7 linked regions of the Homo sapiens genome follow. The protein of the gene in region 1 purifies or fractionates together with the protein of each later gene. This does not show direct contact. Each region holds a gene or a part of one and is shown in the gene's direction. Other genes may lie near its edges. The genes, in order: CLEC16A, SETMAR, SRR, UBE3C, CTSB, DSG2 and SDF4.

Region 1 (4,094 bases):
AATCGGAGGTATACAAGGCAGTGTAGTATGTATGTGCGTACTTTTTACAGATGAAAAATACGAGCCCAGGGATCCTACATTTCTGAGCCTGGGTGTGTTTCTTTGGAGGCCAGATCCTGTTCTTTTTTGCTCCATGACTTTGTCTTGCCCCACTCTATATGAATTACAGGACAAACCATTAACTCTCCACTCTTATCCATTTCTCCAACTGCTGAAGGTGAAACAAACCTTTACTCATTCATGCACTCTACCAATATTTGTTAAACACCTGCTATGTGCCAAACCTTGTGCTAGGCACTGGGGAGAACATTGGCCTCTGGCCCAGTTCTTTCTTGAGCAGAGTTAATGGGACACAGTGGACCTTTAATAAGGTTGATATGTAGAAGTGACTGAATGAATGAATGGATGGTAAACTTGAGAAGTCTTGCCCACACTGAACTTACCACTTCTAATCCAGGGTAGAAGTTAGATATATTCTGGCTCATGCAGAAAGTTGGGTGTTTCCTTTTTCATTTTAACGTGGTACTTTGGGAAATAGCATGGATTCTGGCTGAAGACCAGAGGAATCCTCTGGAAGTACAAAATGTTCAGTTTGGTGCATTGTTGCATCCAGCCTTTTCCAACACACACACACACACACACACACACACACACACACACACACACACACACACACACTTAATTGAAGTGGAAAAAGAAAAAGGCTGTCAGGACAAATAAGGTTGTTATCTAGTGCCGTTTTGGTTTATAAAGGGAATGAAAAATAAGGGTGCGTGCGTGGTTATGAACCCTGGTTTTGCCACTTGTTAACTGCATGATCTTGGGTAAGTCAACCTCTCAGTGACTCCGTTTCCCTGATGATAAAATAGGTTCGATAATAGTACCCAATTCATAGGATGGTTGTGAAAATTAAATACCTTAATATGTAAAGCCCTTAGGATAGTGGCTTTGCATAGTATACACCATCCAATACTATTCTTATTCTTATTATAAATCTAGTAATTGTTACTACAGTGGTGACTTTCCTTGACCCATCTACGCCGATTCCCTCTCCGGGACTGCGCCCAAAGCTTCCAATTCCCGCCCACCCGGAGGATTCTGCGGTCGCTCCTCCTCTCGCCCCGCCTTTTGTGGATGGCCGTAGGCCCGCGGTTGCACGATGCATGCCGGGCCTTGTAGTCCGTTCGCGGAGTCCTGCCGCCGAAGGCCACGCGGGTGAACTGCATTTCCCAGCGCCCCACGCGGCGGCGGCCGTAAAGCGCGGCGGTCGAACGGCCGGTTCCGGCTGAATGTCAGTGCTGGGCTGTGGGCCGGGGAGGAAGGCGGCTCGCGGTTCCTCCACCGCCTCCGCCGCCGCATCCTCCGCTTGTGCTACCGCCGCGGGCGCTGGGCCGCTCTGCTGGTCCGGCATGAGACCGTGAGACGAGAGACGGGTCGGGGCCGCCGACATGTTTGGCCGCTCGCGGAGCTGGGTGGGCGGGGGCCATGGCAAGACTTCCCGCAACATCCACTCCTTGGACCACCTCAAGTGAGTGTGGGGGGCGTAGCGGGAGGCCTCGGGGCTGGACAGGGGGACGGGGCGCCGAGCTCCGGGTCGGGGCTCTAGGAGGCGTGAGAGCGGCGGCGAAGGGCGCCCGGGGAAGCCCGTGTGGTGGTTAAGAGCGAGGGCTCGGGAGTCAGGGCGCCTGGGTTCGAACCCTGACCCCGTCGCTCTTGGCTGTGTGACCTTGGACAAGTCGCTTAATTTCTCAGAGTCTCCGTATCCCCACCTGTAAAGCGAGAGGATGCGATTTCAGTTTATGGACACAGACTTTGTTCTTGACGGTGTCCACCAAGTTTCCTGGCGGGGTACTTCTTAAACTGAACAGCTTAGAGGGTCAAAGGCCTGGGTCCTGGAGTCGGGCAGATCTGGGTCCGAATCTATCTGTGTGAATGTAGGCCTCAGGTTCCCCACTTGTAAAAAGAGTAGAGTGACAGCACCTGCTTCCTGCTATTGTGTTGAGAGTTGGTTGGATAAGAGAATGAACGTTAAGCTCAGAACACGTACAATTGCTCATTAAACGGCATTAATTATTATAAAAGAACAGATTATTTTCCGAGGGGAGTCTAAGCTGGGGGCATGCACGCTGAGACCCAGGATTTTGGGGCGATTGGGGAGGATGATGAAAAATAGAGACCTCTGAGGAGGGAATGACTCTACAGCTCTGGGGGAGGACAGGTGGCAGATAGGGTCTTGGGACCAGGAGTGCAGAAATTAAGAGGCTGGCTTTGCAGCCACACCTGCGTTCAAATCCTGAAACCACCATTTACTGGCTGTGTGACCTTGGGCAAATTACTTCACCTCTCTGAGCCTCCAGATTCCCATTTGCAAATGGGGATCGTGAACATTGTAATGGAAATGGAAGGTGACTGACCCAGTAGGTACATAGTAGGTGGCCAGTAGTGGTAGCTGTGTTTATTATCAGCTCAGCGAGGCCTTCCCAGACCACCCTACCTAACGTGCTCCCCCCATCCCAGTTCCTATCCATCACATCTTTCTCTTGCTTTCATTGAGTGCTTCTCCACTCTCTGCGATTATTCTTTATTTTTTATTTATACTTATTTTCTGTCTTCTGTTAAACTGGCACTTCACGAGGGCACAGACTGCTTGGTTTGTTCACAGTTGTATTCCCAGCATCTAGGACTGCTCTCTGCTTACTTAAAGAGTGGAAAAATGAATGATTGAATTGGGGAGAGATGAAGAGCATGCAGGCCAGGACCCAGGATTTGGGGGCAGGTGTGGAGGATGATGAAAAATAGAGATCTGTATGAAGGGAAAGGCTTTAGGGAGGGAAATGGCGGGGATGCTGAAGAGGGGAGTAGACAAATCTTCAGTGTCAAGAAATAGGCAGGTTTCCAGAAGGAGATCCTGAGACTACTAATGGGAAAGGAGGAAGATAGGGTTAGGGATATGGTGGGAAGTAGTGGAAGGGAGACGGGGCTGTGGAAAGGATTGGTGGGAGGGAATTAGATAGGGACTTCTCATGTGTCCCCGGGAGTGGGGTAGGGGTAGTGGCAGGGCCACAGTTCTCAGCTGTGACCTTTCTAGCATGGAGCAGCATTTAGTAAACGTTTGTGAGTCTTGAAGAGTGGGGAGCAGGAGGGTTCACTATGTGGTGAGGGGCACTTTTAGAGCAGGAGGTGGTGAGAGAAGACAAGGGGAGGAAAGAGGCCCAGGACAAGTCTGGGGTGGGTAGGGAGGTGGGGATCTTAGATGGGAGGGCAGCTGGCCGGGAAAGGGAGTGGTTGAAGGATTTCAGGAATTTATCGAGTGGGCGGAGGTGGCTGAGGAGGGGAGGGGAGTTATCCAGAGGAGGTTGGGCCTCCTGCCGGCATCCAGGTACCTCCAGGTTCTCACCTAACTCTGCTTAACTCTAGCCCTTTTAAATTACCTTAATTTATTAATTTATCGAATGCATTATTCTGTACCAGGTATTTGCTAAGGACTGCCTGTGTGTTAATTCCCTTAGTCCTCACAAGTCTGAGTTACAGGAACCATTATTGTTTCCATTTTACGGAAGTGGAAACTAAGGTTCAGGGGGCTTCAGTGACTTGCCCCCAGGTGTCAGCAGCTGAAGGGTACCAGAGGCAGGATTTGACTCCCGAGCTTGTGCTCATTATACTGTCTTTCTGAATAAAACTTCCCAATAAGTCTGTTTGAGAACACTTTTGACTTGGCTGAGTCTCATCGCCAATGGGGCATCTTTGCCAGCCAGCAGGGAATGGTAAACGGTCTCTGGTTCCTTTGCAGTATCCTGGGAACTGCCTGGGTTCATTGTTTAGATCACATGTCTATCGGATGCTTCTTTGGAAACCCAAGTTGCCTGCCCTGAATCAGGCAGATCAGCTTAATCCATATTACAGCCCCAAGAACCTGAGATTTGTGTATTGGTGGGGGGGTTAGAAGATCCCCCAGTGACTTGGAAAAGAGTTTTGTAAACAGCCAGTGCCCACCCTGGGGCTTGTGCCACTCTGCATTTGGCTCTGTTGGTAAACATCTTGGGTCTTGGGTACAGAACAGCTCGTTCCCTGAGGGAGTTTGCAGGCTGGTGGGG
Region 2 (4,274 bases), on another chromosome or scaffold:
GAAGCCATGGGAGTGGATGTTATTAATGAGAAAGTTCAGGGAAGGGGAGCAAAGAAAAAGGTCAAGGGCAGAACCCTGAATCACACCCACTTTTCAGAAACAGTCAGGCAGGAAAACAACAAGAGGATACTAACAAGGAAAGGTCTGCAAGATGGAAACACATTTAGGCCAATGGGACCTCAGAAGCTGCAAGGTCAGAAGGGTTTGTGAACCCAAAATTATCTGAGACAGGTCTCAATTTAGAAAGTTTATTTTCCCAAGCTTAAGAATGCGCCCCCAACATAGCCTCAGGCAGTCCTGATGACATGTGCCCAAGGTGGTTGGGATACAGCTTACTCTCACACATTTTAGGGAGACATAATACATCAATCAATACATGTAAGATTGGTTGGATCTGGAAAGGCAGACAACGAGAAGCGGGTGAGGGGTGGCTTCCAGGTCATAGGTAGATTTAAAGATTTTCTGATTGGCAACTGGTTATTATCTAAAGACCTAAAATCAATAGAAACGAATGTCTGGGTTGCAATAAGAGGTTGTGGATACCAAATTTGATCGTGGAGATGAAGCCTCCAAGAGGTAAATTTCAGAGAACAGATTGTAAATGTTTCTTATCAGACTTAAGGTGTGTGTTGATGTTGATGCTGGCTGGCTTTTCCTGAATTCCAAAAGGAAGAAGGGCATAATGAGGCATGTTGGACCCCCCTTCCCATCATGGCCTGAACCACTTTCTCAGGTTAACCTTGGCAGAGAGGAGGGGTCCCTTCAGATGGTTTGGAGGATTGGAATTTTATTTTTGGTTTACAGTTTCAAGGAGAAGCAGGACAATCATGTCAGAGAGCTTCAGTGAGGTTGAAAATGCTCCACCGGATTCAGCAGTCTTGAGGCTATCAGAATCCTTTGGCAGGGCAGGGGTTTGGAGGGGTGAGGGTAGAGGGATGGAGAGGAGGGAAAAGGACAGGCAAAGGGGCACGGATACCTCCATCAGGGAGTGAGCATGCCCCCACACAAATTCCTTAAGGCACCCTGTGAGGCTATCGCCTTGGCACAAACCCTATCACATGTCAGTCAACTTCCCGGCAAGCCGCAGACCTTTAGAAACCTTGGTGTGCGTTTCCCCGCTCGGTTTAGAACGCACCCCTGCCTCCACTCCACAAACGTGCAGTGAGCCCTCAAAAACCTGGACAAATGACCTCACCTCGAAAGCCCCCTCTCTGATGCTCCCAGGAAAAACTAAAGCACCTCACTTTGTTTCGTCCGTACCTTACATGGTTTTGTAATTATCTGTGGTGCCTCTGGCTGAAATCAAAACGGGAGCCAGACCCAAAAAGTCAAGGAAGGGAAGCGCCTTCCAGGCCACTCCTGAGAAGAAACGAACTACAATTCCCATGAGGCGGTGGGGCCACGGGACCACAAGTCCCAGCATCCACCGCGCGGCCCAGGACTGTCAGGGTAGTGGGCGTTGCGTGAGGCGGGTAAATGTTCGCGGAAGCGGCAAAGACGACACGGCCTTGTGGGATGGCGGAGTTTAAGGAGAAGCCTGAGGCCCCGACTGAGCAGCTGGATGTCGCGTGCGGCCAGGAAAACTTGCCGGTGGGCGCGTGGCCCCCGGGGGCCGCGCCGGCGCCCTTCCAGGTAGGGGCGGGGCCAGGCGGCGCGGGAGGCGGGCGCGCGGCTCCCCCACGTGGTCTCCTCAAGCCGCCTCGCTGGGACGGCCTCCCAGTCGCGACCTTTTGTCTTCTCTTACAGCGCACCCGTTGGTGCGCGGGAATAGGTGTGCATGCCCCGGCCTGGGCCTTTTTCTGTTGACCCACGGCATCACCTTAGCAAGGGTGTTGTCCTTTTCAGTCCATTCCCTGAAGCGCAGAACCGGAGGCCTTGTGAGAACCTGGCTTTTTGTCCAGTCCTGTCCTCAGAACTCAAGGAGGCATCACGGGGGGAGTCATTTACCTCCCTGGTCTCAGGTGTCTCTCACAGGTAGGATAAGCCGTGGGGCCTATTAATGGATCGCAGCCGGTGTCGTGCATAAAAACAGCCCCTCGAGTCAGCCTTAGCTGTGGTCTCCCTCACGCTGTGGGCTCTTGGGCGAGTGTAAATTAGCTGTGGCTCAGCCTTAGAGTCTTCCAGCGTACAGTGGAACAGTACCTCTCTTCCGGAGTGCTTTGAAAATGGCAAGGAAAATACACTTTCCGGTTTGCTGTAAGAACTCAGTAAATGTTTGCTTCTATTAACTACCTCAAAGCCCTTTCTACTCTCCTTTTTCTTTTTGAGACTGAGTCTCGCTCTGTCGCCCAGGCTGGAGTGCACTGGCGCGATCTCGGCCCACCGCAACCTCCACCTCCCGGGTTCAAGCGATTCTCCTGCCTCAGCCTCCCGAGTAGCTGGGATTACAGGCATGGGCCACCACGCCCGGCTAATTTTTGTATTTTTAGTAGAGACAGGGTTTCTCCATGTTGGTCAGGCTGGTCTCGAACTCCCAACCTCAGGTGATCCGCCCGCCTCGGCCTCCCAAAATGCTGGGATTACAGGCATGAGCCACGCTCCCAGCCTCTACTGACTTTCTTATCCCTCCGACCTTGGCCTGAGCGTTACCCAAGGAATAAGGAATGACCAAAGATTTTGAAGTGGAAAGAGCGCTGGACGTGGAAGTTGGAGAGTATGGTTCGGAGCTTAGACATCTTAGCTACTTCCCAGAGCCTGAGTTTCTTCATCTGCAAAATGAAAATAATAATTTAAAAATGCATAGCCCCTTTAACATCCATTATCAACAATGAACCCTATCTGCCCTTTCTTTTTCCTAGGGGTTTTTGTGAGGATCAGATAAGATAAGAGATTCAATAGCAGCTTTCAAAGATGTCAAGGAAAAGAATCAAACTCTAAAATATTTGAAGAGATTTATTCTGAGCCAAATATGAGTGACCATGGCCTGTGACACAGCCCTCAGGAGATGCTGAGAACATGTGTCCCAGGTGGTTAGGGCACAGCCTGGTTTTATACATGTTTGGGAGAGAGGAGACGTCAATCAAATACATTTAACATGTACATGGGTTTGGTTCAGAAGGCGGGGCAACTCAAAGTGGTGGGGGGGGCTTCCAGACTATAGGTAGATTTTAATTTTTCTGGTTAACAATTTTTCTGGTTAACAATTGGTTGAGTTTGTCTGAAGACCTGGGATCAATAGAAATGTTTAGGTTAAGATAAAGGGTTTTTTTTTGAGACGGAGCTTGACTCCATCACCCAGGCTAGAGTGTGGTGGTGCGATCAGCTCACTGCAACCTCCGCCTCCCAGGTTCAAGCGATTCTTCCACCTCAGCTTCCCGAGTAGCTGGAATTACAGGCGCCTACAACCACGCCCAGCTGATTTTTGTATTTTTAGTAGAGACAGGGTTTTACCATGTTGCCCAGGCTGGTCTCAAACTCCTGACCTCAAGTGATCCACCCACCTGGGCCTCCCAAAGTGCTGGGATTACAGACGTGAGCCACCGCACCCGGCCATGTAGAGACCCAAGTTTTAATTGTGGGGAGGAGACTCCCAGCTGACTTCAGAGGGAGCAGGTTGTAAAATGTTTCTTATCTAACTTAAAAAGGTGCCTCGGTCTTAGTTGATTATCTCCTTGTTGTGGAAAGAAAGAAAAAGAGGGGGAAAGGGGATTCTCTATAGAATGTGGATTTTTCCCACAAGAGACAACCCTCCAGGGCAATTTCAAGATATGGCAAGGAAATATATTTGGGGTTAAAATATTTTGATTTCTTCCCTTATTTGTTATTTGATGTTATGCCAGAGTCAGGTAGAAAGCAGACCATGCTATATAGGGTTAAAATTAAAACTCCTCTGATGAGACTTTATGGTTTGTAAGGCATGACTCCCCAGGTGCCTTGGGTAGGAATTTGGGCAAGATAAGAAAAAATCAGAGTTTAGTCCTCAAAGAGTAGAATAAGATATTAATGTCAGAAATTATTATTGTTCCCCAGACTACCTTTGGCAATTTATAGTTAATAATACAGTTAGCTGGCCCAATATTAAACAGTGGTCCCTGAAAACTTAGGACTAAGCATTGCTGAGTTCCTGGTCAAAAACACTGATTTAAAAAACCACTGTTCTAGTCCATTCTTAATTCAACAAATATTTATTGAGAGCTAAATATATGCAAGGTGGTGGGTTGGGCTGCAAAGAATACAACAAACAGAAAAACGCACTCTACCCTCAAGGTGTTTACAACTGTCACGATTAGCTTCAATATTCCTGCCGTGCGTGTGTGTGTGCGTTTGAGACTATT
Region 3 (4,019 bases), on another chromosome or scaffold:
GGTAGGTTCATGAAGTATCCACAAAGATAAAGCAGTTTAACCCAAGAATAGCTCACCCTCGGCAGTCTGTAACTTGGTGGGGGGCGGGGGGATGGGGAAAGCTATTCCTACTACTTTCTAGAGCAGCGGGAGAAAATAGCCTTAATAATCCAATTATGTTAATCAACAAAAACCAATTTCACAGACTGGCCGCAAACCTAGAGAAGGCACCTATCACAGCTACCATTCTACACAACTCTATTGCCTAACGCAGGAGAGGTGAGACACTTAGAATCTTTCTTACTTTCCTGACGTGGCTGGAGACTTGAAATTAACTTGCAAATTGAGCATTCTCTCTAATAAAAACTGCTCCCACACATGCCAGGGCCAAACCCGAGTAGTCTGAGGTCCCGGATCCCTCCAGTGGCGCAGCTTTCGGAAGCCTGTCTTGGGGGGGAAAAGTTCAGCAACGAAGTCGCAGGCTCTTAAACCTTTCTCCCCAATTCCTTCTCTCCGACGTTAAAGCGGTGGCCGGGGCAGGCCCGCGGAGGGCGGCCTGGAGAGCGATACGCCCGGGGCCTCCACCAGACCCCACTCCTTTCCGCGTCTCCCGATGCCTGGGAATCCGGGGCGGGTCTGAGAGGGCTGGGGCAAAAGGAACAGTCACCTTCGCGGCGAGAAAGAGGGTGGAGGCAGGAATTCGGGCCAGGCTCTCCCGGAGCTGGCCAGGACTGGCCGAGCCCGACCCCGCACTAACCCGCGAGAGAGGTAGGGCAGCGAGGGTCCGCCGCGGCCCCAGCGCCTACTGCTGGGGGAAGGGGCGGGGGCTCCGGAGCCGAGGGCCGAGCGGGGAGGAGGCAGAGGAGGAGGAGAGGGAGGCGGGGCGGGCAGGCCCGGCCCAGGAGCTGGGCGGCGCGACTCACCTCTGCTCCCGGCCTGCGGGGCCAGAGTAGCCAGGATCCCGCGCAGCTCCGACGCGGAGATCCGCACACGCTCCAGCCCTTCCGCCATCTTCGCGGCTGCTGCTACAGCCGTAGCGGCTCCGCCACCGCCGCGCGCAGCCAGGAAACCACCACAGACGGGCGGCGCGCGCGCTCGCCCACCTCCCGGCCTTTCCCCGCCCCCTGCCGCCCTCCCTTTCCGAACGACGGTGGCCGCGCTGGGAGGAAAAGCGCCCGCCGCCGGTTCCAGAGGGGCGGGACCGGAGCGAGAGCCTGGGTGGGGCGGGCGGGCGCTGCGCGTGCGCAGAGGTGCGGCCGGGGAGGCGCGCGGAGGCTGGAGCTGGAGGCGCGGCGCCGGTGAGCTGAGGTGAGGCGAGGCCGGGCCGTGCCAGGCCAGGCGGGCGTTTGCGGCGGTGGCTGCCGTTGCTGTTGTCGTGGACACCAAGGACACTGCTAGTCTGGGACTCGGGTTGACAGAGACACCCCTCAGCCTGGGCTCCTCTGGACACCTTAGGCCAGGCTCTCCCGCCACAGGCCCGGCCTAGCGCCGCGGGCCATTACTTGGGACCTTGAAGATCTGCTAAGAGTAGTTGTTACTATTCCCTTTTTTTTTTAGTTGGAGTCTCGCTCTGTTGGAGACTCCCGGGCTGGAGTGCAGTGGCGCGGTCTCGGCTCACTGCAACCTCTGCCTCCTGGATTCAAGCGATTCTCCTGCCTCAGCCTCCCTAGTAGCTGGGATTACAGGTGCACGCCACCAAGCCCGGCTAATTTTTGTATTTTTTGTAGAGACGGGGTTTCACTAGGCTGGTCTCGAACTCCTGACCTCAGGTGATCCACCCGCGTCGGCCTCCCAAAGTGCTGGGATTACAGGCGTGAGCCACCGCGCCCGGCCGCCCCCTGACTTTTAAAAACTAGATACGATATAGTTGGAATCGTGTGGAAGGAAGTACATCAGGAGGCATATAAGTCCATTTGGGACCTGTAATCCCGGCGACTCGGAACGCTGAGACGGGCGGATCGCTTGAACCCGGGAGGCGGAGACTGCAGTGAGCCGAGATCGCGCCACTGCACTCCAGCCCGGGAGTCTCCAACAGAGCGAGACTCCGCCTCAAAAAAAAAAAAAAGTCAATTTGGGAATTTCTGTGTCACTATGGATTCTTGAAAAAAATTACTGCTGTGGATCTCAGGTTGACTTTTTAATTTCCCATCTTTAAAATTGAACTATACCAGAAGGCTGGTACTTGAATCTTTTTTTGGAGAACTGTACAGAGGTGAAGCTCCCTTCCCCAAGGCCTCCTGCCTCCACCTGTTGCCCCTCCACAGCCCCATAGGCTTTTACCCCACACCCATCACAGAATAGTTACCAATTATTCCTTAGTCTGAGCCGAAGGGATTGCCACAACCTCTGACAGAACTCCTTCAGTTCCTTTTACGTGACACTTTGTCACCGGAAGGTTAAGCATAAGAAGAAAGTCAGTAGATGATGGGTGAAAAGATCCAACAGTTCAGAAGAGGAACCATTTGAGTGGTCAGAGCAGAAGACAGCCTTTGCCACCAGATTTGAGAGAAATAGGAAGAAGCGTTAAAAAATAATCTGTTTCATATTGAAATTTGAGAGGCCATTGCATGATTTCTTTTTTCAGCTGGAAAAATAATGGAAAACAAGAAAACTTTCTTAGGACAAATGGCACCACCCATTTAATGCAACAGTGTCAGTGAACTGCAGATTAGATATGCCAAAAGTTAAACCAGTTCAAGAAAATTTACCAGAACTCAGAAGGAAAAGGTAATAGATAAAAACTGAGAGACAAAGATAGGAGACATGGAGAAGGGGTACAAAAAATTAATAATTAAATACGAGTTCCAGAAGGGGATAATACAGCTGACTGCAGAAGAGCAATAATCAAATAGTAGAAGAAAATTTACTACGTTGGTGGAAATTTTTGAATTATCAGATTTAAAGAATTCATGAAATACCAGGTAAAAAGAAATGACAAGAAAGACAACCATATTTAAGTCAGTATCACAATGAAAGCTGCTGAGATTTTTTGTTTTTCGTTTTTTTTGAGACGGAGTTTCACTCTTGTTGCCCAGGCTGGAGTGCAGTGGCACAATCTTGGCTCACTGCAACCTGCCTCCTGGTTTCAAGCAATTCTCTTGCCTCAGCCTCCTGAGTAGCTGGTATTACAGGCGCCCACCACCATGCCCAGCTAATTTTTTGTATTTTTAGTAGAGATGGGGTTTCACCATGTTGACCAGTCTGGTCTCGAACTCCTGACCTCAGGTGATCCACCCGCCTCAACCTCCTAAAGTGCTGGGATTACAGGCGTGAGCCACCGCGCCCAGCCTTGAATTCAGTTTCTAAAAGTAAAAATTGTACAAGTTGGCCGGGCGCGGTGGCTCACGCCTGTAATCCCAGCACTTTGGGAGGCCGAGGTGGGCAGATTGCCTGAGCTCAGGAGTTCCCAACCAGCTTGGGCAAGATGAAACCCCATCTCTACTAAAATACAAAAAAATTAGCTGGGTGTGGTGGCGGGCACCTGTAGTCCCAGCTACTTGGGACGCTCAGGCAGGAGAACTGCTTGAACCTGGGAGGCAGAGGTTGCAGCGAGCCGAGATTGCTCCACTGCACTCCAGCCTGGGCGACAGAGTGAGACTCCGTCAAAAAAAAAAATTGTACAGGTCATATTTACTTAGCACAAAGTAATAAAACTAGAAGTGAATAGCCACAAATGAAGCAAAACATTCTAACCATTTGGAATTTTTTTAAAAACAACAATTTTAGGCCAGGCCCCGTGGCTCATGCCTGTAATCCCAGCACTTTGGGAGGCCAAGGTGGGCAGATCACTTGAGGTCAGGAGTTCGAGACCAGCCTGGCCAACATGGCGAAACCCCGTCTCTACTAAAAATACAAAAACTAGCCGGGCGTGGTGGTGGGTGCCTGTAATCCCAGCTACTTGGGAGACTGAGGCAGGAGAATCACTTGAACCAAGGAGGTAGAGGCTGCAGTGAGCCGAGATCACGCCACTGCACTCCAGCCTGGGTGACAGATAGAGACTCTGTCTCAAAAATAAAACAAAACAAACACTTTCCACCCAT
Region 4 (3,500 bases), on another chromosome or scaffold:
TAATACTCTTGTGCTGGGTCCTAGATGATACGCATGTTCAGCTGTTGTGCACACCGCTGCCACAGTTTCCCCGTGTCGCACGCCCACAGCATCTGAAGGTATCCAGGTTTCCACATCCTTGCCAACACTTGATATTGCAAGTCCTTTAATTTTAGTGAGGATGTAGTTTCTTTGTGGTTTTAATTTTGTTTCCTGACAACTAATTATGTTGAGCACCTACATATGCTTGTTTTCCTGAATTCTCTTTGACTGCCGCATAAGTCCCTTCCCTTGTTGGAAAAATGAAGTTATAGTGACCCTTTTCTCATGTCTTAAATTATTATTTGAAATCTTCCCTTTCTGGAGCTTAGTGGAAAATGGAGTGGTTACCACCTTTGAATAAGCTTTTTCTTTTTTCAAATTAAATACTTTTAGTATTTATTATTTGTATAGATCTGTGTACGACAAGTCTGACTTGAAGAAGTTGATAATCTTGTTGGGCAGATAAGACTTAAGCAATTAAAAATTAAATAACAATAGAGTAATTGCTACATTCTAAATTTCCCTTGGTCCTGATTCAGAAAAAGTAGAATTGTTTGGAGCTTAGTCCTGAAGGATGGGTGTAATTAGGATGGGTGGAAGACGAGAAGGCATTCCAGGTTCGTGGAGCGGGGTGTGTGGAGTACATGTAGATTGGATTACATTGATTCAAAGTCACTTTGGGGAGCTAAACATTGATTACACATGGACATAAAGATGGGATGATAGACACCAGGGACTACTAGAGGGGGAAAGAGAGGGACGGGGACAAGGGCTGGGAAGCTACCTGTTGGTAACTGTGCTCACTCCCCGGGTAATGGGATCATTCACACCCCAAACCTCCGCGTCCTGCAGTATATTCTTGTAACAAACGTGCATAGGTACCCCCTAACTCTAAAATAAAAGTTGAATTTTTTTTTTTTTTTTGAGATGGAGTTTCGCTCACGCTGGAGCGCAGTGTTGCCCAGGCTGGAGTGCAATGGTGCGATCTCAGCTCACCACAAACCTCCACCTCCCGGGTTCAAGCGATTCTCCTGCCTCAGCTTCCCGGGTAGCTGGGATTACAGGCCTGCACCACCACGTCTGGCTAATTTTGTATTTTTAGTAGAGATGGGGTTTCTCCATGTCGGTCGGGCGGGTCTCGAACTCCCGACCTCAGGTGATCCGCCTGCCTCAGCCTCCCAAAGTGCTGGGATTACAGGTATGAGCCACTGCGCTCAGCCTGAAATTTTTTTTTAAGTCACACTGATTTCTATCTTTAAATATTTCTGACATCGGGATACACACTGATAGCATGATGCAGTTTAATTGGGGGTATGTTTTTCTTGGTAGTGTATAGAAGAATATCACGGGGTCATCTGATTTCAAGTACAGAAATGGACTAAAACTAGCTTAGTAGGCAAAACAAAAAGAAACAAAAACAAGTTTATGAAAGGATAGGCGTGTCTGACAGAATAGAAAGGTCAGAAACACCCAGATAGCAGGTATCACCACCACAGGAGTTGCTTGTCTTTCTCCAGGAGCTGGGTGCACTCCCTTCTTCCTGTCTCCTTCATTCCTGGCTCTGCAGACTGGCTTTCTCCATTTCTCACACATGGTTTCCTAGCTTAAGCGTCAAGAAAGTTTGATCATAATTACCAGTTTTCAGGAGAGGAAAGTCTGATTGGCCTGGGTCATGTTTCCACCTGATAACCTCAGTCTGAGGAGGGCTTGGAGGCTTGGTTCAGATGGAACAGTCTAGGTGCACCTGAGGGCTGGGGTAGATTCTTCAAGAAGCGGGGAGTGGTCGTTGACTGAATGCCTGAGTTCCTGTGGGACAGGCACAGGAAGGAGTCTAGGCTAGAGATGCAGATTTGGGGGTTATCAACAGAATGGTGGCTTCGAACACAGGTCCTTAAGAGGACTTGGAGTTTGGGACAGGGTGGGACTCGTGAGGTACTGCAACATTTAATATGTGTGGGAGTTGGGGATACTTACAAAAGAGTCACACCTCCGGGAGTGGAGGAGAGTGGTGTCCAGGGAGTGAATCTCAGGGAGGGAGGAGTGACAGGCAATGCCAAGTGCTGCACAGACACAGTGAGTCCACTGACTGCGGAGCTGGGAAGAATTGGGTGATTTGAGCATATTCTGTAGGGTAGTCAGAGTTGGAAGTCAAGAGCATAGCACATTGGAGAGTGAATGGGAAGTCACAAACAGGGCCGAACACAGGCCGGATGCTGTGGCGCACGCCTACAATCTGCCACACCGAAGACTGAGGCGGGAGGATCGCTGGATCCCGGGAGTTCAAGGCTGCAGTGAGCTGTGATCATGCCATAGCACTCCAGCCTAGGCGACACAGCATGACCCCATCTCTTAAAAAATAAGGCAGGGGCAAGGCAACAGTGTAGACCTTTTTTGAAAAGCACCGGAAGATTGGATGATAGAGGGAAATTCGGTGTCTCGGAAATAGTTTTGTCTGTTTTGGGAGACGGGGGAAACTTAAGTTTATAGACTGGGAAGGACGGGGGTTAAAAATGTGGGGAAGACAGGAGTGGCATAACTTTCAGAGTCTTCGAGAATACCCGAGAGGGGAGAACTGAGTGGGAGCAGGCAATGGGAAATATTTTGAGACTTAAAGAAGCTAGGGATGAATATGGATATAGAAAAGTTTGTAGACCGGAGGAACTGAAATTTTTTAAGTTTTTGTAGATCTGACAATAGTGGGAGTAGAATTAAGATCACTTTAATGTTTGTCCAGTGCTTTTTTTAAAAAAAAATAGACTTTATTTTTTAGAGCAGTTTCAGGTTTACAATCAAGCAGAGGGTAGGGTTCCCATATGCCTAGTCTCCCTCACCTCACTTTTCTCTATTACTAGCATCTGGCATTAATGTGGATCATCAGTTACAATTGATAAACCAATGTCGATGTGTTATTATTAATTGAAGTCCATAGTGTACATTCAGGTTCACACTGTGTGTTGTGCATTGTGTAGGTTTTGACGAATATATGATGACATGTATCTACCCTTACAGCGTTATACAGAAGAGTGTCATTGCCCTAGAAATCCTCATTGCTGGCCAGGTGTGGTGGCTAATGCCTGTAATCCCAGCACTTTAGGAGGCCGAGGTAGGCAGTCAGGAGTTTGAGACCAGCCTGGCCAACGTGGTGAAACCCCGTCACTACTAAAAATACAAAAAATTAGCTGGGCGTGGGAGGCTGAGGCAGGAGAATTACTTGAGCCCTGGAGGTGGAGGTTGCAGTGAGCCTGGATTGTGCCAGCGCATTCCAGCCTGGGTGACAGAGCATGACTCTGTCTCCAAAAAAAAGAAAAAAGGAGGAGGCCCGGCACTTTGGAAGGCCAAGGAGGGTGTATCACCTGGAGTCAAGAGTTCGAGACCAGCCTGGTCAACATGGTGATACTCTATCTCTACTAAAAATACAAAAATTAGCCAGGCGTGGTGACAGGTGCCTGTAATTGCAGCTACTCAGGAGGCTGAGGCAG
Region 5 (3,500 bases), on another chromosome or scaffold:
TGGTTACTAGCTCCATTTTATAGGTGGTGAAACTGAGGCTTGGGGAAGGTCAGACCCCAAGGGTGCCATTTAGTCAGTGGCAGAGCCAGATCCAAATGCAGGTCTCCTGACTCCAAGTGCAGGGCTCATTTTATCGTCCGGTTGCAGCACGCTGGCGGCCCCTTGAGCCCCAACCTGGATACCATAGGGGAGGAGCAGAGAAGCCAGGAACACCACAGCCCTGGGCCAAGGTGCGGGGCTGAAAGAACTTCCCAGCGCTCAGCCTGGGACTAGTGGAATGGGCTGGGCCCTGGGGCTGGCAGCGGTGGCCCCGGGGAGCCTGGGAATGAGTAGGGAGCACAGGGAGGTGTGGGAGGGCCTGGGAACCATGAAAAGGAGGGCGGGTGCAGGGAAGTCGCCTGCTAGTGAAGTGGCGAGGGGGCCCTGTGGGACTCCAGGGAATGGCCACGGCAGGTTGTCCTCCAGGAGTTGAGAGCCACTGGACATGGCAGCTGCCTGTGTTCTCAGCCACCACAGTAACCAAAGAAATCTTGGTTTTAAAATTCAAGTTGCCATGGAAACGCTCCCATCCTCGACTTGGCTTATTATTTAAAATAACATCTCTACAGCACAAAGCCCCCGGGTACATCCAAGGACACTGCTGTCTGCCCACGAGACATGCTAACCTCACAGTGTGGAGGCTGTGTGGGTCACTGACATGCATGGCCACGTGAGACGCTGCCTACCCACGAGTCACGGAAAAGGGGAAGATTATTAAGAAAGTCACTAGGGGCCAGGTCCAGTGGCTCATGCCTGTAATCCTAGCACTTTGGGAAGCTGAGGCAGTTAGATCCCTTGAAGCCAGGAGTTCAAGACCAGCCTGGCCAACATAACGAAACACGGACTATACTACAAAAATTAGCCAAACGTGGTAGCACAGGCCTGTAATCCCAGCTACTCAGGAGGCTGAGGCACAAGAATCACTTGAACCTGGGAGGTAGAGGTTTCAGTGAGCCAAGATTGCGCCACTGTACTCCAGCATGTGCCACAGAGCGAGACTCCCATCTCAAAGTCACTAGGGAGGAAGCCTCATTGGTGGGAAGGAAGACCAAATTGGAAATGCTCTGAGGAATCATTAAAACAAATGTCCTTTTATCAGTTTGGTGGCTCAGGGCCTTTAGTAATACTGCCAACTATTTTTCCTAGAAGAAACAAAACTGAAATAATAGGAACATACTCACTTTTTTTTTTTTCTTAAAAGTAAGGGTATGTTGTGAAAAAAAGTCTCCCCACCGTAGTGACCGACTGCCGTGCATCTTCCTTGGCATTTTGCATGTAGTGGCAGGAGTGTTCCTACATGTGTAGATTGCTGAGAGGGTCAGATGCTTATGGTCCTCAGTCACCCACAGCTTGCTTTTTCCCCACTTAACATTGGGACTTGGGGCATTTTTACTCTGTTAATACAATAGAATTCACTTCAACTAGTTGGTTTTTTACTTTTATTTTATTATTATTATTTTTAGATGAAGTCTCAATCTGTCGTCCAGGCTGGAGTGCAGCCTCTGCCTCCTGGGTTCAAGTGATTCTACTGCCTCAGCCTCCCAAGTAGCTGGGATTACAGGCATGCGCCACCACGCCTGGCTAATTTTTTGTATTTAGTAGATACAGGGTTTCACCACCTTAGTCAGGCTGGTCTCTAACTCCTGACCTCAGGTGATCCAACCGCCTCGGCTACAGGCATGCGCCACCGTGCCCCACCAACTAATTGCTTTTTTAATGGTTGCTTCATATTCTATTTAACCACTTACCGTAATTTAACAGTTACTCTGTTATTGGATACTTGATTCATTTCCAGGACATGCAGATTTAGAAACTGGTGGGCGTTGCTGGTTGATGTCTCGGTGGTTGTGCCCACCCACCCCAGGCACTCATTATCATGCCTTCCGTTTCCCCACTTCCTAAGCCCTGCAAGAAGTGCCAAACTGTCCAGCCCTTGCCAATCTGATACATGCTGAATACCTCCTTGATTTTATCTGCACCTCCCTGAGGTTGAACTTATTTTACTTTATTTTATTTTATTTTTGAGGCAGAGTCTCACTGTCACCCAGGCAGGAATGCAGTGGTGAAATCTTGGCTCACTGCAATCTCCACCTCCTGGGTTCAAGTGAGTTGAAGCAATTCTCCTGTCTCAGCCTCCCAAGTAGCTGCGATTACAGGCACCTGCCACCACACCTGGGTAATTTTTGTATTTTTAGTGGAGACGGGGTTTCACCATGTTGGCCAGGCTGGTCTCAAACTCCTGACCTCAGGCGATCCACCTGCCTCAGCCTCCCAAAGTGCTGAGATTACAAGCTTGAGCCACCATGCCGGTTGAACTTATTTTTATCTGTGTTGGCCATTTGTAGTTTTTCTATTATGCTGGTTCCATTTTTCTGACTTTGAAGAGCCTTTTGTGGAAACGAAGCCTAAAGTATATGTGAGTACTGCTTTGTTTCGTCAGTTTTTGTTTTAAAGAGACTTTTCAGTGTAATGCAAGCATTTTCCCTTGAAGGCTGTGTTTCCTGTCAATCCTAAGCTTTCCTCCAGCATTACCTTTTTAAAAAACTTTATTTTCTATATTGATGGGGTCTCACAATGTTGTCCAGGCTGGTGTTGAACACCTGGCCTCAAGTGATCCACTTGCCTTGGCCTCCCAAAGTACTGGGATTATAGGCATCAGCCACCGCACCCAGCCTGTTTTTCAAAGGGCATTGATTTTTTTCATAAAACTTTTTAAATTAAGATCTGTGGGCCTGGTGCGGTGCCTCACGCCTGTCATCGCAGCACTTTGGGAGGCTGAGTCAGGTGGATCACGAGGTCAGGCGTTCGAGACCAGCCTGGCCAAAATGGTGAAACCCTGTCTTTACTAAAAATATGAAAATTAGCTGGGCATGATGGCACATGCCTGTAATCCCGCTGCTCGGGAAGCTGAGGTAGGAGAATAGCTTGAACCCAGGAGGCAGAGGTTGCAGTGAGCCGAGATCATGCCATTGCACTCCAGCCTGGGGGACAGAGTAAGACTCCGTCTCAAAAAAACAAAACAATTCTGTGTTGCATGTGGTACTTTTTGTGTGTGAGGAGTCCAGTGTGAAGATTCAGACTTCAGGCAGCCACTTGTACAAGCACTGTCCTGTTTCCTCTCTGGCCTCACCTAGGTAACGCTGATTCCTCCACGGAGGATGTGCTTCTGAGTGGTCCGTTGGGTGCTGTGCTGATGAGCATCACCCAGCATTTTACGACACATGTGCTGCCCCAGAGGGCTGGGCTCCCGTCAGAGCTCTTTTCCACTGGCTGGGTGCGGTGGCTCACACCTGTAATCCCAGCACTTTGGGAGGCTGAGGCCAGTGGATCACCTGAGGTCAGGAGTTCGAGACCAGCCTGGCTAACATGGTAAAACCCCATCTCTACTAAAAATACAGAAATTAGGTGCGTGTGGTGGCGCACACCTGTAATCCCAGCTACTTGGGAGGCTAAGAACCTGG
Region 6 (3,500 bases), on another chromosome or scaffold:
AAATGAAAAAGTAATTTCAATTTTTTGTCATAGAAAATTTTGTTCAAGTAAAAAAAAAAATCAATGACCTAGTGATAACCAGAGTACATATTTTGAAGTAAAATACCTATTACATAGAGCAACAAAATGAGTAAAATGATAAACCAAACCTAGTATAAGGATTATTTCTGATCTTAAGATCCCAGGTCAGCTGTATTGAAATTTCCCTTGGATAAAATATATATTCACCTGTAAAACCCAACTGGAAATTTATAGAATGGTTTTCTGCCTAAGGTTCTGAAAATGAAATGGGAAATTTAATTCTTTACCCAATCCTGAAAACAATAAATTCATTAACTGGCAGTTTCCCTGGTTTTAGTCAAGTTTATATCAATAGATTACTAAGATTTAGCCTTAAAAAACATTTAGTAATTTATTTTTAAACCACAAACCACCACAGAAAAATGAAACTTCATTTTCAGTTAATAAGAAAAAACGTTTTTGACATGATCTGTTATTTTTTACTTTGCCAATTTGTAAGGCTACTAAATGATTCTTTAAACTTTTCAAACTCTCACTCTGGGAAATCATTTCTTACAGTTAAAAACAAAATTCTACTGTCTGGGCACAGTGGCTCACACTTGTAATCCCAGCACTTTGGGAGACTGAGGCGGGCGGATTGCTTGAGGCTTGAGTCTAGGAGTTCAAGGCCAGCTTAGGCAACATGGTGAAACCCCATAGCTACTAAAAATACAAAAATTAGCCAGATGTGGTGGTGCATGCCTGTAATCCCAGCTTCTTAGGAGGCTGAGGCAGGAAGATGGCTTGATCCGGGGAAGTCAAGGCTACAGTGAGCCAAGATCATGCCACTGCACTCCAGCCTGGGTGACAAAGCAAGACCCTGTCTCAAAAGAAAAAATAAACCAGAAAAAACCCTACACTTTTACTAGCTTGGAGACAATCTCTTGAGGCCCTATGCAGTTTGCTAGAATATATATATTCCCTTTTAGACAATGAAGCCTCATAGGAAATACGAAGCATACCTTAAAATTTGCACTATTTAAAAGTTTATTATGTTATAGGACAGCATACTAATGTTCTATATTTATGACACATAATAAATTTTGGCAATATTCTATTGTTATAGGTCTTAAGCACAAGAAATGAAAATAAGCTGCTTCCTAAACATCCTCATTTAGTGCGGCAAAAGCGCGCCTGGATCACCGCCCCCGTGGCTCTTCGGGAGGGAGAGGATCTGTCCAAGAAGAATCCAATTGCCAAGGTACCTCCTAAAGAGGAACATGAAATACATGCATATGACTAAAATGTGGTGTGAGAGGACTTTTATGTCTACTTTAAGATTTAAGGAAAATGTATGATGTGCTTACAGAATTTTTAAATATTCAAGATATATCTGAAAATTAGCAGAGCTTACTTTTTAGCATAAAGTATCAACTTTAAGATTCTCTTTCCCATTCCGGAAGATGCAGCATCATTGGCAAAAATATAGATAACTTTGAGTTTTGATTTAACTAAGAGTAAAGGGATTTGGCACTGGTAACACAAAATGTTCAGTGCTCAAAAGAGGATGTCATAAAATGTCATTTTCAAGATGAACTGGTGTCTATTACTAGGTAGGGGGACCATCTTCATCTGCCTGAGACAGTCGTGGTTTATGCCTGCTCTCCTGGCTTAATAATTAATATCTGTGTTTTCACTCTCAAGGGGTCCAATTTTTTTGATAAATTATGTGATAGTGTTGCTACTCTATATTTCAAAGTTGGCATGCACAAACATAAACCCTTCATTTTTTTCCCCCCAAAGCTTTTCTTCATAAGTTCTACCCATTTTGGTAATTGATGCTATAATTCTCTCCAGTTTTTCAAGCCAAAAATGTACCACACACTATCAGTTCTATTCCAAAAATATATTCCAAATCTGCTGCTTCTCTTCAACTCCACTGCCATTCCCCTAGTCCAAGTCATGTCATCTCTGGCCTGTATTACCAAAGAACTTCAGAAGGAAATTGTCCATAAAAATATTTACCTGTAAATTATAGAGAATCACTTCTTAGGCTTTTGGCTAAGATCAAATCTAGTAAATTACAGAGAGTTCAACCTGAAACATTCCTGTTATTTTTATGTTAGATACATTCTGATCTTGCAGAAGAAAGAGGACTCAAAATTACTTACAAATACACTGGAAAAGGGATTACAGAGCCACCTTTTGGTATATTTGTCTTTAACAAAGATACTGGAGAACTGAATGTTACCAGCATTCTTGATCGAGAAGAAACACCATTTTTTCTGGTAAGAAGAATAATTTTAGATTTATTAGTTTGTAGTTTTTCTGTCATAATAAGTGTCATTTGTTTTATTTTTTCATAGTATGGTAATTTAGTTTTCTTAGCTTAAATCTAATCTTATTTATGTCATGATTTCAGCTAACAGGTTACGCTTTGGATGCAAGAGGAAACAATGTAGAGAAACCCTTAGAGCTACGCATTAAGGTTCTTGATATCAATGACAACGAACCAGTGTTCACACAGGATGTCTTTGTTGGGTCTGTTGAAGAGTTGAGTGCAGCACGTAAGAGTCTTTTTTTTTTTTTTTAATAAATAAATACCTAAGATTACTTTATCCCCACTGTAAATAAACACTAAATTTCATATCTTAATGAAAGTTGAGTATTACCTACAGAACAAATGATAAGAAAGCAGTTCAGAACTGCTTTCCTTATAGGTTTAAAGGACTTTACATGCCATTGCTTTTACCCTCAGAACAGATAGGGTAGATTAATGTGATGGATAAGGTCTCTGTAGCAACTACTCAACTCTGCTATCTGCAGGAAAGCACCATAGACAATATGTAAACAAATGAGCCTAGCTGTGGTCCAATAAAACTTCATTTACAAAAACAGGTGGCTGGTTAGCTTTGGCCCTACAGCTTTGGCTATAGTTTGCTGACCTGTAAGTTGTATTATTTTTACTGTAATATTTATTCACAACATTGTTCAACACAGTGCTCTTCATGAGGACCCGAATGAGAGATTTCTTTTTGACCATGATGTAAGGAATAGTTACGCTTCTCCTGATTTGTTTGTATCTTAATAGATATCAGGATCATGTACCTGCTCATGTTACTTTCTTTGTATTGGCTACTAATACTATTATAAACAAATCTGTGCCCTTATACAGCAATTTTTCAGGACTCTACCCTCAGCCTTGCCTTCATCTTGTTTTTACTATTGTTATATCCCATTCACGCTTATGTCCTCATCCAGTTAAATGTTATATTGTGGTCAACTGTATGTGATTTTGATAAGCACCTGAAATCTTTTTTGGAACAAGCTAAAATTATAAATAAAATAACAGGTAAATATGCTTAAAGTTGAATTTCATCTTAGACATCTTTATTTCTAATGCCAGATACTCTTGTGATGAAAATCAATGCAACAGATGCAGATGAGCCCAATACCCTGAATTCGAAAATTTCCTATAGAATCGTATCTCTGGAGCCTGC
Region 7 (2,786 bases), on another chromosome or scaffold:
GGGCAGGGGGGGGTCCAGGCTGTCTTGGGGAGTCCGGGCTGTGTGGAGGGGTCCAAGCTATGCCTTTGGGGATCAGGCCTGTGGGAGGCTCTGGGTTATGTCTTGGCGGGGGTCCAGGCTGTGTCTTAGGGGCTGGGCCATGTTCTGGGGACGTGTGAATCCTGGAGGGTGGGGCCCCGGTCTCGCGGGTGGCTGTGTCCCTCGAGTTCAGGCAGCACCTCTCGGAACTTTCTGGATTTGCGTGCTGGCGTCTGTCGGCCTCGATACCCACAGGCTGCGCCCCTCTCAGCACAGGAAGTCCTGGAGAACCTGAAGGACCGCTGGTACCAGGCGGACAGCCCCCCTGCAGACCTGCTGCTGACGGAGGAGGAGTTCCTGTCGTTCCTCCACCCCGAGCACAGCCGGGGAATGCTCAGGTTCATGGTGAAGGAGATCGTCCGGGACCTGGGTGAGGCTGGGTCCAGCCTGGCCGGCACGCCAGGACCCAGGACCGACTGGCAGGGGCCGGGCATCGTCGGGAGGTCGGGGCAGGTCCTGCGGGAGCCCCAGCCTGGGTGTGGGCTGACCCATTCCCGTCTCGCAGACCAGGACGGTGACAAGCAGCTCTCTGTGCCCGAGTTCATCTCCCTGCCCGTGGGCACCGTGGAGAACCAGCAGGGCCAGGACATTGACGACAACTGGGTGAAAGACAGAAAAAAGGAGTTTGAGGAGCTCATTGACTCCAACCACGACGGCATCGTGACCGCCGAGGAGCTGGAGGTGAGCCCTGGCGCAGCCGTGTCCCGGAGCCGGCCCTGCGAGGTGCTGTGGCGGGAGGGGCTGGTGGATCTGGGCCTGAGGCAGGAAGCTGTGCTGGTGTCTGGCCTGAGACTCCATCTGGGCTGGTCACTGGGGCGTTTGCTCAGCGGTGTCCACCAGGCTGCATGGCCGTTGTTGGCGTTTAGGTTCAGACGGATCAGAGACAGGCGAGCCTGGCCGGGCTCCATCCTCAGCCCCTTGCGGAGGCGTCAGGGTTCTCACAGCCCCTTTTTAACGGGACCACAAGGGGAAGCTCATGCTGGGCCCAGCATGGAGGCAGGTCCAAGGCCCAGCAGGTGCAGGTGGGCGGGGCGGCCTGTGCCACATGGCTGGAATTTACCACCTTCCTCTGAAGCGTTTTCACTGGTATCATGTGTAGGCTTGTTTTTCTCCCACTGCTGAGTGAGTCATCTTGTTTTTATGTAGAATCCTGTGATTCCTGGCGACAGCCAGTGGGCCCGGCCCAGGTTAGGGATCCTTCAGAACTGGGGTCCAGGCCTGTGTAGCCCCTGTGCCCCGTTACCCCTGCTGGCCCCGGGCAGGCCTTCCGGGGCCCCCGGCTTCTCCCTGCCCTGTGTTTTCATTTGTGCCGCCTCCCTTCGGGAACCTTCCAGAACGTGCCCACACTCCCGCTGCAGCCAATAGGCACCTTAAATAGCCACTTCGTGCGGCTGGCCGCGGAGCTCGGAGGGGGAAAGGCGACGCTGACCTGTGCCCCGCTCGCCCGCAGAGCTACATGGACCCCATGAACGAGTACAACGCGCTGAACGAGGCCAAGCAGATGATCGCCGTCGCCGACGAGAACCAGAACCACCACCTGGAGCCCGAGGAGGTGCTCAAGTACAGCGAGTTCTTCACGGGCAGCAAGCTGGTGGACTACGCGCGCAGCGTGCACGAGGAGTTTTGAGCGCCCGGCCGCGCCCCGCGCCGCCCCCCACGCACCACCGGGGCGGCCTCGCGGGTGACTCCGGGCTCCGTGGCTGTCCCGGACCCCACCTCTTCCCTGCCGCCCGCCACCGGCCGACCGACCGCGGCTGCCCCAGTTGATGAGCGGCGTGTCCCCTCTGCAGCGCGCACCCCGGCGGGGCTTTGGCTGTGACGCGGTCGGGGCGCGGGGCTGGGCTGTGGCCCCGCGGCGCCGCCTCCTCCCTGGTCCCTCGAAATCGTGGCATCTCACTTCTGAGAACGAAATCTCGCTTCAGTCACTCTGCCGAAGGCGCTGACGGCATCGCGGCCGGAACCTCTGGGCCCGGCCCCTCCCAGGGCCGCCGCTCCGTGGGAAAAAACAGCTCCTCCATTTCCTTGAAAACTGAACGATTATTAAAAATAGATTAAACTTCGCTGGAAATGAGTAGCCAGGAAGTTCAGGGGAGGGTGCCGGGTCCTTCCCGGGCCTGGCGTGTCGGAGCCACCCAGGTCCCGCAGCTGCCGCTGAGAAAATGCAAATATTTGTTGTGACAAGAATCACATACATTTACTTTAAATATAGTTGCCTTTTTTGGTCAGCTTCATTCTTTGGGCGTGAAACAAAACACAACAGCAGCGTGCTAGGTTTGTGGTTACAGTTTCCACTGGAGCGCTGGAGGCTGGTGCTGGGTCACGTGGAGGGTTGGAGGTCATGGCCGGTTCGAGGTGATTCTCCTGGCAGGTGGCAACGGGCAGGGGCTCTGGGAGGACGGAGGGCAGCGCTGCGTTTGTGAGTAGGGGTCAGGGGGCAGCAGACGTGCCCACTGAGTTTGGGGTTTGGACATTTAAGGCAGGAGACAGAGCCGCCTGGGGGTTTTGGGTGGAGGATGGCAAGGTCTTTGGGTGCAGTGGGGCAGGCCTAGCCCCAGATGGGGCAGAGAATGGGGTGTGTTAGGACGGCTGGTGGGGGTCCTGCTCTGTGGCGTGTGGGGGCCCAGGCTGTGTCCTGGCTCTCCCAGTGGGAGCTCAGGGAAGCCGGGAGTGTGTCCTCTTCAGTCTGCCCTGTGGTGCCCATGTGACCG

What was found.
Region 2: the proteins of CLEC16A (region 1) and SETMAR purify together in Homo sapiens (affinity purification with mass spectrometry, with the first as the bait; one study listed by BioGRID). This does not show direct contact.
Region 3: the proteins of CLEC16A (region 1) and SRR purify together in Homo sapiens (affinity purification with mass spectrometry, with the first as the bait; one study listed by BioGRID). This does not show direct contact.
Region 4: the proteins of CLEC16A (region 1) and UBE3C purify together in Homo sapiens (affinity purification with mass spectrometry, with the first as the bait; one study listed by BioGRID). This does not show direct contact.
Region 5: the proteins of CLEC16A (region 1) and CTSB purify together in Homo sapiens (affinity purification with mass spectrometry, with the first as the bait; one study listed by BioGRID). This does not show direct contact.
Region 6: the proteins of CLEC16A (region 1) and DSG2 purify together in Homo sapiens (affinity purification with mass spectrometry, with the first as the bait; one study listed by BioGRID). This does not show direct contact.
Region 7: the proteins of CLEC16A (region 1) and SDF4 purify together in Homo sapiens (affinity purification with mass spectrometry, with the first as the bait; one study listed by BioGRID). This does not show direct contact.

Annotation. Positions count from the first base shown.
Region 1 is NC_000016.10:10,943,270-10,947,363, forward strand, and holds the start of CLEC16A (protein CLEC16A), read left to right. Parts: upstream 1-1,294; 5' UTR 1,295-1,448; coding exon 1,449-1,528; intron 1,529-4,094. UniProt on the Homo sapiens protein: Regulator of mitophagy through the upstream regulation of the RNF41/NRDP1-PRKN pathway. Mitophagy is a selective form of autophagy necessary for mitochondrial quality control.
Region 2 is NC_000003.12:4,301,895-4,306,168, forward strand, and holds the start of SETMAR (histone-lysine N-methyltransferase SETMAR), read left to right. Parts: upstream 1-1,474; 5' UTR 1,475-1,476; coding exon 1,477-1,632; exon of another isoform or gene 1,633-1,777; coding exon of another isoform or gene 1,778-1,974; exon of another isoform or gene 1,975-2,585; coding exon of another isoform or gene 2,586-2,708; intron 2,709-4,274. UniProt on the Homo sapiens protein: Protein derived from the fusion of a methylase with the transposase of an Hsmar1 transposon that plays a role in DNA double-strand break repair, stalled replication fork restart and DNA integration.
Region 3 is NC_000017.11:2,302,731-2,306,749, forward strand, and holds the start of SRR (serine racemase), read left to right. Parts: upstream 1-1,219; 5' UTR 1,220-1,287; intron 1,288-3,746; exon of another isoform or gene 3,747-4,019. Other genes in the region: SMG6 (telomerase-binding protein EST1A), read right to left, coding at 903-990. UniProt on the Homo sapiens protein: Catalyzes the synthesis of D-serine from L-serine. D-serine is a key coagonist with glutamate at NMDA receptors. Has dehydratase activity towards both L-serine and D-serine.
Region 4 is NC_000007.14:157,141,926-157,145,425, forward strand, and holds part of UBE3C (ubiquitin-protein ligase E3C), read left to right. Parts: intron 1-3,500. UniProt on the Homo sapiens protein: E3 ubiquitin-protein ligase that specifically catalyzes 'Lys-29'- and 'Lys-48'-linked polyubiquitin chains.
Region 5 is NC_000008.11:11,854,588-11,858,087, reverse strand, and holds part of CTSB (cathepsin B isoform 1 preproprotein), read left to right. Parts: intron 1-147; exon of another isoform or gene 148-230; intron 231-3,500. UniProt on the Homo sapiens protein: Thiol protease which is believed to participate in intracellular degradation and turnover of proteins. Cleaves matrix extracellular phosphoglycoprotein MEPE. Involved in the solubilization of cross-linked TG/thyroglobulin in the thyroid follicle lumen.
Region 6 is NC_000018.10:31,518,677-31,522,176, forward strand, and holds part of DSG2 (desmoglein-2 preproprotein), read left to right. Parts: intron 1-1,126; coding exon 1,127-1,261; intron 1,262-2,126; coding exon 2,127-2,288; intron 2,289-2,422; coding exon 2,423-2,567; intron 2,568-3,406; coding exon 3,407-3,500.
Region 7 is NC_000001.11:1,216,431-1,219,216, reverse strand, and holds the end of SDF4 (45 kDa calcium-binding protein isoform 2 precursor), read left to right. Parts: exon of another isoform or gene 1-283; intron 284-289; coding exon 290-448; intron 449-583; coding exon 584-759; intron 760-1,412; coding exon of another isoform or gene 1,413-1,528; coding exon 1,529-1,705; 3' UTR 1,706-2,286; downstream 2,287-2,786. UniProt on the Homo sapiens protein: May regulate calcium-dependent activities in the endoplasmic reticulum lumen or post-ER compartment. Isoform 5 may be involved in the exocytosis of zymogens by pancreatic acini.